Linked DNA regions of Homo sapiens. The protein of the gene in region 3 interacts with the protein of the main gene of each other region in a pairwise test. Each region holds a gene or a part of one and is shown on either strand. Other genes may lie near its edges. The genes, in order: PLPP6, TMEM11 and TMEM106C.

The links.
Region 1: the proteins of TMEM106C (region 3) and PLPP6 interact in binary tests that used the Homo sapiens proteins (3 or more experiments, as listed by UniProt).
Region 2: the proteins of TMEM106C (region 3) and TMEM11 interact in binary tests that used the Homo sapiens proteins (3 or more experiments, as listed by UniProt).

The regions. Positions count from the first base shown.
Region 1 is NC_000009.12:4,660,169-4,663,916, reverse strand, and holds the start of PLPP6 (polyisoprenoid diphosphate/phosphate phosphohydrolase PLPP6), read right to left. Parts: upstream 1,624-3,748; 5' UTR 1,542-1,623; coding exon 654-1,541; 3' UTR 1-653. Other genes in the region: SPATA6L (spermatogenesis associated 6-like protein), read left to right, coding at 1,881-2,018. UniProt on the Homo sapiens protein: Magnesium-independent polyisoprenoid diphosphatase that catalyzes the sequential dephosphorylation of presqualene, farnesyl, geranyl and geranylgeranyl diphosphates.
Region 2 is NC_000017.11:21,212,617-21,216,364, forward strand, and holds the start of TMEM11 (transmembrane protein 11, mitochondrial), read right to left. Parts: upstream 1,546-3,748; 5' UTR 1,537-1,545; coding exon 1,475-1,536; intron 1-1,474. UniProt on the Homo sapiens protein: Plays a role in mitochondrial morphogenesis.
Region 3 is NC_000012.12:47,962,041-47,965,788, reverse strand, and holds the start of TMEM106C (transmembrane protein 106C), read right to left. Parts: upstream 2,194-3,748; 5' UTR 2,085-2,193; intron 1,992-2,084; exon of another isoform or gene 1,820-1,991; intron 1,581-1,819; 5' UTR 1,553-1,580; coding exon 1,366-1,552; intron 508-1,365; coding exon 444-507; intron 1-443.

The DNA.
Region 1 (3,748 bases), on a different chromosome or scaffold from region 3:
GACAAGTATTATAATCTCTTTTCCCACTACCCGATCCACAAATATGGATAGAGATAATAAATTATAGAGATAATAAAGTAAAAAAGCTTACCAAGAAAATCAGGATTAAGAAGAAATCTCCCAACTGTGGCAACAGATCTTCAGGGAATAAACTAGAAAAACCTATGTCTTGGACTTTAAAAATACTGTTTAAAATCTACCTCAGGAAAAGGACTAGGATTAGTACATGACCTGTCTGCATGTATATTTACAGAATGAACATCATGTTTCTTTCTCGAAGTTCAGTTTACAAGTGGTATGTTGATTTAGGGATTATCACAAAACACAAATCTTACTGATACCAACTTTTAACAGCAACAGTATAACCACCTCAGCTTGTTTTCTTTGCAGTTGTCCTGGAAACATAAACAGTTGTTGAATAAATATACAATAGAGGATTTTTTGGGTTTTTTTGCTTTCCCTAATATGGCTGTGTTCAGTAATGGCCAGTGTGTGCTCCAGCCTAGCAGCACATCAAGATCATGGGACACCTGAAATCCCAAAGGAAGCCTGAAATGCCTAAGAGGGACAAGCGGGATGGCTGCTGGTTTAGGTTGACATCATCGAATGTGGAAACCTTCAGACTTCCTGGTGCCATAATCAATGAGATGGTGTCATCGTTGACTCCACAGTAAAAAGAGGACCGGAGCATTATGGGGTGAGAGCCAGCAATAGTCCACGATGCTGTACTGCATGTAGCCCAGAAAAAAGCCAAAAGCTACGTCGGTGACATTGTGCCGCCCCAGCATGACCCTGGATAGGCCCAAGACGAAGGCCCACAGAACCACCAGCACCCTCAGTGGAATGGCCAGCACCAGGTGGTTCAGGATGAACCTCGACATCAGGGCGGCCCTTGTGGCATGGCCCGAGGGGAAGGAGTACTTGTCCACCGAGAGAGTGACAAACATGTCCATCTGGTTGTGGGCCGGGCGGCGCCTGCGGACCAGCCCTTTGATCAAGGCCACCAGCAGCAGGTCCAACAGCAGGGCGAAGAGCAGGTTCATCAGCACCTCGCGCCCGGCCCAGCTGTCGCTCCTGCACAGGCAGTAGAGGGTGCCCAGCAGCCAGGGGATGCCGTGTCCCGAGATCTCCAGCAGCTTCATAAGGGGTCGCACGCTGCCCCACGACGAGCTCTCTCCCGCGCACACCCCCAGCTTCTTGGACAGCCACAGGTCGATGGCCAGCAGGGAGCGCAGGGCGATGCCCAGGAAGGACGGGTTCAAGTCCATGCGGTCCTCCTCGGGCAGCGGAGGCGCGGGCGACTGCGAGGGGCCCGCCGCGGCCAGGGGGAAGGAGCCGCGGCGGTGAACTGGGCTCTCCGATGCACGGAGCCGGGCGCAGGTGGGGTCCACGGCCGTGGCGCGGCTGCTGAGCAGGGACTGGAACTCAAACCTGCTGCCGCCGCCACCGCCGCCATGGGCTGGGCTGCCGGGGCTGCTGCTGCTGCTCGAAGCGGAGACGCCCAGCGGCCGTCCCTCCATGCTCCTCCGGGGACTTGGCATCGCAGCTGGCGGCCCGGATCCCGGGACCTGGCCGGACCAAACAGAGGCTTCCCGGCCCTGCAGCCTCTTCCGCTTCCGCACTACCATCCCGGAGGGGCGGGGAGAGGAGCCGGCGAGAGCGCGATTGTGACACCTGGTGGAGACGTGGGAGGGAGTTGGAATTTCCAATGTGAGGAGAGCAGAGGGGAGGATGTTGGCGTTGGGAGGTACAGGTGAGGGAGTGAGGTGATGGGGAAAATGTCAGTGTCTGTAGGAGCTTAAGAGAAATAGAGCCCCGTGTAACAAAACAAAGCAAAGTCTGTTTTCTCTCCCTTGTTTGTTGTTTTCTTTCTTTTTAAGATTTCTTGCCCAGGAGTGTTCCTGCCTGGCAAACAAGATGTGTACCTCGGGGTCTACCTCATGAATCAGTACCTGGAGACCAACAGCTTTCCCTCTGCGTTCCCCATTATGATTCAGGAGAGCATGAGATTTGAAAAGGTGATCTTGACTTTCTCATTGGCTTTTGTTGTCTGAAGATAACCTGAGAGTTCTTATAAAGAACAGAGTTCTTACAGCATTATTTGGTAAATTTCATTTTTAAAAAAATTATCCGAAAGCACTTCAGCACAATGCAAAACCGCAGTCGGAACACTTGCTTTTGTAATGCAGGTCTGAGCCAAGTTCTGTCAATCTAGTGCTAAATACCCTGGTTGATGTTTCCTATTCTTGGAACTCCCATGGCATTTTTTTAACTGGAGCAAAGAGAGCATTTCTGAATGTTTTTGGAGGTGTTAGAGGTAATTGCATTACATTTACGAAAGGGATTATTAATAAACTGTGGACCTTAGAAAAAACTGTGTTAGACCAAGAAAAATAGCGAAAAAAAAATAATGAAATTAGTTAAATCCTGTAACTAAAATCCTGTAACAAAAAGGCTGTTCAGATTTACTGTTTCCTCAGATCATACCTAGATTATTTAGCTACAGTGATAAAGGCTAGATTCCATTCTGGTGAATAACATGGTGATATAAATAGTCAAAACATTACCAGCCTTCTTCACACTAAACTATTCATAGAATATTGATGTTATTACTATGTCATCACTGACAATCTCTTAACATTTTTGTTTTGGAATTTGGAGATGGAATCAATTTTAACCTTAATAAGTCTAATGATTTTGCCCCAAACAATGTCATTGAGGGAGATCTGGGGAGAAGGAAGGCTACAGAGTAGAGCATGTCACATTTTTTTAAAAAAATTATACTTTAAGTTCTAGGGTACATATGCACAACGTGCTGGTTTGTTATATATGTATACATGTGCCATGTTGGTGTGCTGCACCCATTAACTCATTCCCCCCACCCCACGACAGGCCCCTGTGTGTGATGTTCCCCACCCTGTGTCCAAGTGTTGTCATTGTTCAATTCCCACCTATCAGTGAGAACATGCGGTGTTTGGTTTTCTGTCCTTGTGATAGTTTGCTGAGAATGATGGTTTCCAGCTTCATCCATGTCCCTACAAAGGACACGAACTCATCCTTTTTTATGGCTGCATAGTATTCCACGGTGTATATGTGCCACATTTTCTTAATCCAGTCTATCACTGATGGACATTTGGGTTGGTTCCAAGTCTTTGCTATTGTGAATAGTGCTGCAATAAACATACGTGTGCATGTGTCTTTATAGTAGCATGATTTATAATCCTTTGGGTATATACCCAGTAATGGGATGGCTGGGTCAAATGGTATTTCTAGTTCTAGATCCTTGAGGAATCACCACACTGTCTTCCACATGGGTTGAACTAGTTTACTGTCCCACCAACAGTGTAAAGGTGTTCCTGTTTCTCCACATTCTCTCCAGCACCTGTTGTTTCCTGACTTTTTAATGATCGCCATTCTAACTGTGTGAGATGGTATCTCATTGTGGTTTTGATTTGTATTTCTCTGATGACCAGTGATGATGAGTATTTTTTCATGTGTCTGTTGGCTGTGTAAATGTCTTCTTTTGAGAAGTGTCTGTTCATGTCCTTCACCCACTTTTTGATGGGGTTTTTTGATTTTTTCTTGTAAATTTGTTTAAGTTCTTTGTAGATTCTGGATATTAACCCTTTTGTCAGATGAGTAGATTGCAAAAATTTCCTCCCTTTCTGTAGGTTGCCTGTTCACTCTAATGGTAGTTTCTTTTGCTGTGCAGAAGCTCTTTAGTTTAATTAGATCCCATTTGTCAATT
Region 2 (3,748 bases), on a different chromosome or scaffold from region 3:
CAATTCTCAGCATCTATTTTCTTAGATCAATAAAAGCTTAACCTGTGCTGGCAAGGCTCCTGTTCCCTGCCTGAGGCATCCCTATTCGGCTCTTTTCAGATGCTTTTAGTCCAACAAGAGGGCGTATGTTTCTAATACTTTGTTTTCTAAACAGGTTATTTCGTATTACTGTTTGCATTGAATATCTTGAAAATGTTTGCTAGTTTTTAAGAGCATCTGAAAACCATTGAGGTAACTTATTTAAATGGTCCAATCTAATACCAGGCGGGAGTTAGAAAAACAAAAGTGTGTTTACCACTGCTTTTCCAAGGAAGAGGAAATGCAGAATGGGCAACGCTGGATAACTGGGCTAAAGAATAAAGTGCAAGCAAGCTAAAGGATTCTATCACAACTGCCAAACAGGAAGAATCTTCCCAGCTGGGAAAGCCATCTGCAAGCAATAGCAATGAACACGGGATGGAATCAGTCACAGAAAAGGAATAATGCAGAGTAGTTGAGAGGAAGATAACTTTTCTGTTAGACAATCCTCACCAAAAAGACGGGGAGGGGGAGAACCAGCAAAACAAAAACTTTTCCTTTTTTGCTGACCGCTGCTATAACAATCAAGCTTTAGCGGACAGTTAATCCAGGTGGCTCCACCAATACATCTTCTCCCAAATTTCTAGTGGCTGAACAGCTTCTAGTGGTTTCCACTAGCTGAAACTGCTTCCCAGATGCAAAAACTGCAACTTGAACATGAAACACGGAAACTACTCCAATCTCATCTTCTAGAAATCAGTTATTCAAATGGAGGTCCCTGTTGGAAGAAACACGCTCCTAGCTCCCTGCCCACACACCATTCATTAGGAAAGGTCACTTTAAAGGACTTCTACGGCAGGAGCGCTTGCACAGAACCATCCAAAAGTCTTCAGAATCTTCCCTCGAGGAAGTGGCCGGCTCTGGGCTCGGAAGAGACACATCTGGCGGGAGCTAAAGCTCCCTAGTAAACGTGCAGATCAAACTACCCCTGCCGCGGCCGGCCTGCTCTGTGAAGGCTTCCCCTTCTTTCTCTCTCCGGGGGCCCTGCCTTCCTCTACACGTCTGGGGCCGCGGCCGAGATGGCCACGCGCGTGCCCAGGCGGGAAGGGTGCTTCAGCAGCCGATCGGCCCGCGGGCAGCTAGGCGGGTCCCTGAGGCCTGCGCTGGGCGCCAGTTCCTTTCAGCACGGCCCGGCCTCGGGCCCCGCCCCGCATGGCCGCTGCCTACCTTACTCAGCCCGGCTAACGCCCCTTCCCCTAAGCTCTCCGCCGAGGCCTTCGACCTCGCTCCCACCCGGATCCCGGATCCTCCGGAACTGGAACCCAGTATGCCCGGCGAGGGTAGGGGGAGCGCGGGGAAACCAGGGAAGGAAGGCTGCTGCAGCCCTCGGAGGCCGCGCTGGGCTCTCCGGCCGCTGAGCCGCCTGCACTGGGGGCAACAAGCCCTTGGATCTCACCTCTCTCGGGCGCTGCCGCCACTGCTGCCCGGGCCAAGACGCCTCCTTCCCCAAGCGGCCATCTTGGAGACACTCTGCTTGCCAACGTCTCGCGCCAAGGCGGCATCGGGAGAGCAGGCGGGCCGACGGGAAGTGTAGTCCGGCCTGCGGTCCGGGGCCGCTCGGCAGGCGGAAGCCAGACCCGGCGGAACTACCGTGCCCACAAGGCAGCGCGCCGGAAGCCCCGCCCCCGGGGTCGCCGGGGCCCGTAGTCCTTCTGCGAGGGCGCGAGGACTCCAGGAGCCGTCCTGGTTCGAGCATTTCTGAAGAAACTGAGTTCCCGGCGTTCGCAGCCTGGGAGTCACAGGCGCCCACCCACCGGTAGGTCCTTGAGTTTCGAGAGCCAGTAGCTGAAGGAGAGAGGAGAGGCAAGTGCCTACAACTCCCAGAGCACTGCGCGGAGGCGCCCGGCCGCGCTGTCCTGGCCGCCAGGCTGCCTCTCCCGCTGGGGGCCGCCGCGCTGTCTGCGGGCTACTAGCGCCGGGCCCCTCCGCGTCGCCACGCCTGCCCTTCACAGCCTTGGCCCATAAGGTCACCGAGGGGCGGGAGGCGCCGCCCGGGCCCTCCTTGGAGGCGGGCGCTGCTCCCGCACCATCCTCCCCCAGTTCTCTTAGACTCCGGGGTACTTTGGAGGCCGAGACAGACACGCTGTCCCTGCTGCCACGGAGGTCCCTGCTTGCAGGTGCAGGCTGTTAGAGGAGAGGGTCTGAAAACAAGAAAGGGGAATAGCTGTATGATAACTGCTTGAAGGCGAGAGGGCCCAGCGACAGCTCTGTTTTAGACAGGGCCTCCAGGCCTCTTAGACTCAGTCCCTGCCACGCACCCACTCCTGCCCTGGCCGCTGCGACGGCATAATCTCGGGATCTTTGAAGGCAGATGCGGGGCTAAACCATCCCACCTGACGGGAACCCTGCCACAGGACCCGACATATCCCTGTCTGGACACTGCTGTAACGAGTCAAAGTCAGGAAGGACTAACTGGAGCCCAGAGATTCCCAGGTGCTGCTGCCTCAGACCTGTGGACTCTTTGGAGGATCTCTTACAGTTTGTGAACTTCTCAGTTCCTCTACTGCTCCCACAGACAACGTTGCTAAACATATTAATTGGTCCCATAAATACTTGAGCAAAACAAATGCGAAAATCTGTCCCGAATTCAGCCTAGAAGAAGCCCAGCCCTGCGCGTCACACTTCTGTGTAGTGGAACCCCCCTTCCCACCCCGCCGCAGGCCACAGCAGGAGGGCCAGCAGACGGAAAGGCGACCCTCTCCTTGTTGAGGATTCCTTTCGATTTCCTTCCAGCTGACATTCTACCACAGTTTTAGCTGCTTGCAATCCTCTCACCGTCCCTCATCACCTACAGTGTGTGATTCAAATTCCTTAGCACAATCAAGAAGCCCCTCCTTAGTTTGGAAGTTGCCTAGCTCTCCAAATTCAACTGCCTACCTTTCCCGTCTGGAACTTGCCAGGCTAGTAAATTCAGAGGGTTTGCAGATACGTAGATGTTCTATGCTTTACCTAAAATGCTTTTACCTCCCAGCCAACTTTTTTTTTTTTTTTTGAGACAGAGTCTTGCTCTGTCGCCCAGGCTTGAGTGCAGTGGTGCGATCTTGGCTCACTGCAACCTCCGCCTCCCAGGTTCAAGCAATTCTCCTACCTCAGCCTCCTGAGTACCTGGGATTACAGGTGGTGCCACCACACCCAGCTAATTTTTGTATTTTTAGTAGAGACGGGGTTTCACCATGTTGGTCAGGCTGGTGTCCAACTCCTGACCTCATGATCCATCCCCCTCAGCCTCCCAAAGTGCTGGGATTTACAGGCATGAGCCACGGTGCCCAGCTCTCCCAGCCAACTTTTGTCCTTCAAGACCTTGTACCTGTCTGGTCTCTAAAAAGTACCTGGCCTTCCTGTTGAGTCATACAGCCCTGCCTCCAAGTGTCAGCGTAGTTCATGCTGGAGACCTCTTAACAGTTCCATGGTATGACACTGCGGATATGGCTGTCTTTTCTTTGTATCAGTGTGGTGATTCAGAGGGTATACTAGGGATTCTAGAACGCACTTCTGGCTCAGGGGCTGCTTGTGTAACTTCTGTTTCTCAGCTGCCTGGTTTGTATCATGGGATGATAGTATCTCCCCTCAGAGGATTGCGGTATTTCATGAGGTGATACGTGTATGGAGGCCAAGTGCTGTTTTATATTTTAAGTGATCTACATCTTGATTTTCACAACAACTGTATAAA
Region 3 (3,748 bases):
TCAATGTGTCAAGATTAAACACAAAACCAGGAAAGAGAAGGGAGCTGAAAGGGAAGTTCCAAGAGCCAGGAACCATAAACCAGTTAAGAAGCAGTGAAGCAGGAGAAACCTTTTAAAACTCCTTTAAACACTGTTTGCACTCTGGGAAGAAAAGCTGAAGAAAGGAGCTATGTGGACAGAGACAGTCCCACACCTCCCAGAACACTCCACTTTCCCAGTTTCTTCTGATTCCATTCCTTGACCTTCAAAGCATTTCCAGCTTCAAGTTTCTTTCCCCAGATTGTGATGGGGGCAGAGATATCTTGCTTGGGCAAACAGTTATAAGGAAAATGGGGAACTTATAAGAACATGTGTAGTTTTCAAAGAATTAACTGGCATTCATACATACAGAAAGAGATTAGGGACAGAAGTAGGTATTAACAGGTGAGAAGCAGGTAACTCACGTTCGCTGAGGGCGCAATCTCTGATCACTGTGTGGGATCAAAGCCACCAACTCATTTACTTGCTCTAGAAAAGAGCCAAACAATTATTTTGTAAATCCCATGTGTTGGCAGTACTTCCTTCACGTCTCACTTGAGCCTGCCACAACAAATATTCTTCTGGAATGAGACATTTTAAAAAATACTAGTGAAATTCACATGTTGGGTCTAATGAACAAGAAACAAGAGAGTGCCACAAATTATAAAACATCTATCAGTGCTGCCAGGGTAGTGATGTGGAAGTTGAAAAACCTGGGATCCTGTTCTGGCTTTACTGCATGGGCTTGGCAGAGTCGTCGAATCTCTCAAGGCCATGGTTTCCTTGCCTTTCATATGGAAGCTTTGGAGTAAATGATTTTGAAGGTCCTAACCAGCTCTAAATTTCTGTGACTCTCCAGCTAAACTGTTAAAGACTTTCTGAGGGCCAATTTGTTAATAGTAATAGATGATCCTGTACCAAGGCTAAGTATTTGTCTCTCTCTCTTGACCTGATATATTTTTCTGACCTTAGGCTGTTAAGGATTAGCTACCCATTTCCTTGAAAAGCAGCTTCCAAGATGGTTCCCCCGCAAAGCTGTCCCAATCCTTGTGACAGCGATAAAGAAATGTGCCTGTCAACAAATCCCACAACACAGAGCGAACTGAATGTTCCAAACCTCAGGAAAAGAACAAGAGTGGCGGTAAAGAAAAGAAAGGGTTGGAAAAATAAGGAGAGGAAGAGAAGTTGCAGAACTGCCCAAGTGTATTAAGTCAGTTGAGCTGGCTCCTGTCCAGGGCACTGTCTCTATTATGGTATTACTGCCTAGAAGAAAAGTTGTCTGGGCAGACAGGAGAACTCCGAGGGTACCTTGGGATTCTCATCAGGGAATCATCCCTCCATGATCACCTGTTGGAATGTAGCCTGTCCCCTGGCACGTGAGACAGGTGATGCTATCTCTCCCGGTGAATTCCACATATGGGAACTGAGCAATGGCTTCTTCCTGCTCTCGTTCAGCCAGCAAACCGTCCCTGTCATCTTCTTGCTTTCGCCTGCAGGAGGAGGGGCGAGCAGCAGCGGAATGCTGAGACCCCATGGCCGTGATATGCCACTGGTGTCATGTCCTAAGATGAAAAGAGGGAGTGCACGTTAGCGGCCCCAGTGAATCACGACAGAAATCGCTTGTTTCTATAAGAAAATTAAAAACGCAAAAATGACAAGTTGCCGCCCTGAGTGTGGTCCCAACACCTGTACGATTTCTATCGGGACCCTCATTTTGTAGTAGTGCTACCCACTCTCCTCTTACCCGCCACACACAGCCGGCGGGGGTGGGGAGGGGGAACGGGGCCTGCCTTTCACGCACCTGCCTCGATCCTCACCGCCCTGGGACTTGGGGCACCCCCGCTCCCACCTGGTCCAGCCTCGCCCCTTCCTCTTCACTATTTGTAAGCTCTATGCCCCTCCTCGAGCAACAAACAGGCACCAAATTGATAACCGGCCTTAACGATTCCCATTCCTCTCCACCCCCCAGCCCCAGGAGGCGGGCTCAGGTCACGCCCCTTGGCAAAAAGCGATGCTCTGAGCCCACCAAAGTGGCCCAGGCAGGAGCGAACGCCAGCGTCGCAGACCTGCAGGGCACGAACTCCCGGCAGCTCCTCTCCGGCCGCTCCCCCGACCACCTGCCAGCTTGAGGACTTACCAGCCTCTTCGGTCGGCGGAGCGGCACGCACTCAGCGCGCAGGCGCCAAATACCAAGCCCGCCAGGAGAACGCGGGCGCGCGCTCGCGCGTGCGCTCTTCGCGGCTCCGGAGGCCTTCCCAATATCGCAGCTGTCTGGCTCCCTCGGTTCCGGTAGAGGGCGGCAGAGAGCGCCGGGGAGCCGCGACCCTTGCTGTTGGGCCGCGGTAGTCCGCGGAGTCGGGATGATGCTCTGCTGTTCGCTAGATAGGCTGGGAAAGGCTCCAGTCAAGTTTCCAGAGCAAAACACTTCTCTGCTGCGAGAGGAGGAAGGTGCTGCCGGCTACCGAAGCCATTCTGAAATATTCTTTATAGTACAGGAGCTGTGTAGTCGCTGAGGGTACACACATGCGGAGCATTCGGATAAACTGCCTTTGCAAAAATTGTAAGTGAGAAAATTATGACAGTGAAAGAGATCTGACTTACCCAGTTCCGTCTTGCTTCTAACCTCCGAACTGCCCTTGTTCATTCCTGGGTATAGGCCAAACTAACTTTGGGAGGAATTTAGTTTATAGTTGAACTTCGAAGCAAAGATAACAGCCCTTCCCCAAAACAAACCCCCTTCTTGCCTGGGGACCAGACTGCCTTTGTAAGACTAACAAATTAGCCACAAGATTAGAAATTATGGTTTAGGAGTCATCCAGACAGAGGTCACAAGATTCCAAACCTTCCCTATTGCTCCAAGGGATAACATCACTATTGTAAAATCTAAGATCGGTGCTGGGGATATTTTTCAGACCCTGCATTCTGAGGCACCAGCTGGCAGTACCTAGACCAGTTATCTGGCTCAGCCAGTTCTGCAATCCCACCCAGGAACAGAAAACAGCAAGAAGAACCCACTTAGACCCCCCTATGATTTCATCTCCAACCTGACCAATCAGCACTCCCCACTGCCTGATACCTACCAGCCGAATTATCCTTAAAAAACCCCAGTCTCTGAATTATCGGGGAGACTTATTTGAGTGATAAAACTCTGGTATCTCATTCAGCCGGCTCTGCATGAATTAAAATCTCCATTGCAATTCCCCTGTCTTGATGAATCAGCTCTGGGCAACGGGCAAGGAGAACCCGTCCGGCAATTATATCAGAACCTGTCTTCAGTCCAGGAGGGGAACCCAGAGGCTTCATCAGACCCCTCCAATACTGTAGATAAAAGTGCTGCTGGAAGTCTCACAAGTCAGAGGGGCCCAGCCTGGGGGAAACCTTCCATGGGGAGTCCTGCTGGCTTCTCGCAGGAACGGACCCCACAGCTGAGCTTTGCAAGCCAATTAGGTGCCAAGAGGCACCAAGGAGTAGATTCATTCGGTAGTAGGGCCCCCCCTTCCCCAGACCTCCACAAAAAAGGCACGTACGTAAGAGGTTAGAAAGCACTTTTCGTTCGTTTGTTTGTTTGTTCGTTTGTTTTGAGATGGAGTCTTGCTCTGTCGACCAGGCTGGAGTACAGTGGCACAGTCTCAGCTCACTGCAACCTCCGCCTCCCGGGTTCAAGCGATTCTCCTGCCTCAGCCTCACAAGTAGCTGGGATTACAGGCGCACACCTCCACACCTGGCTAAT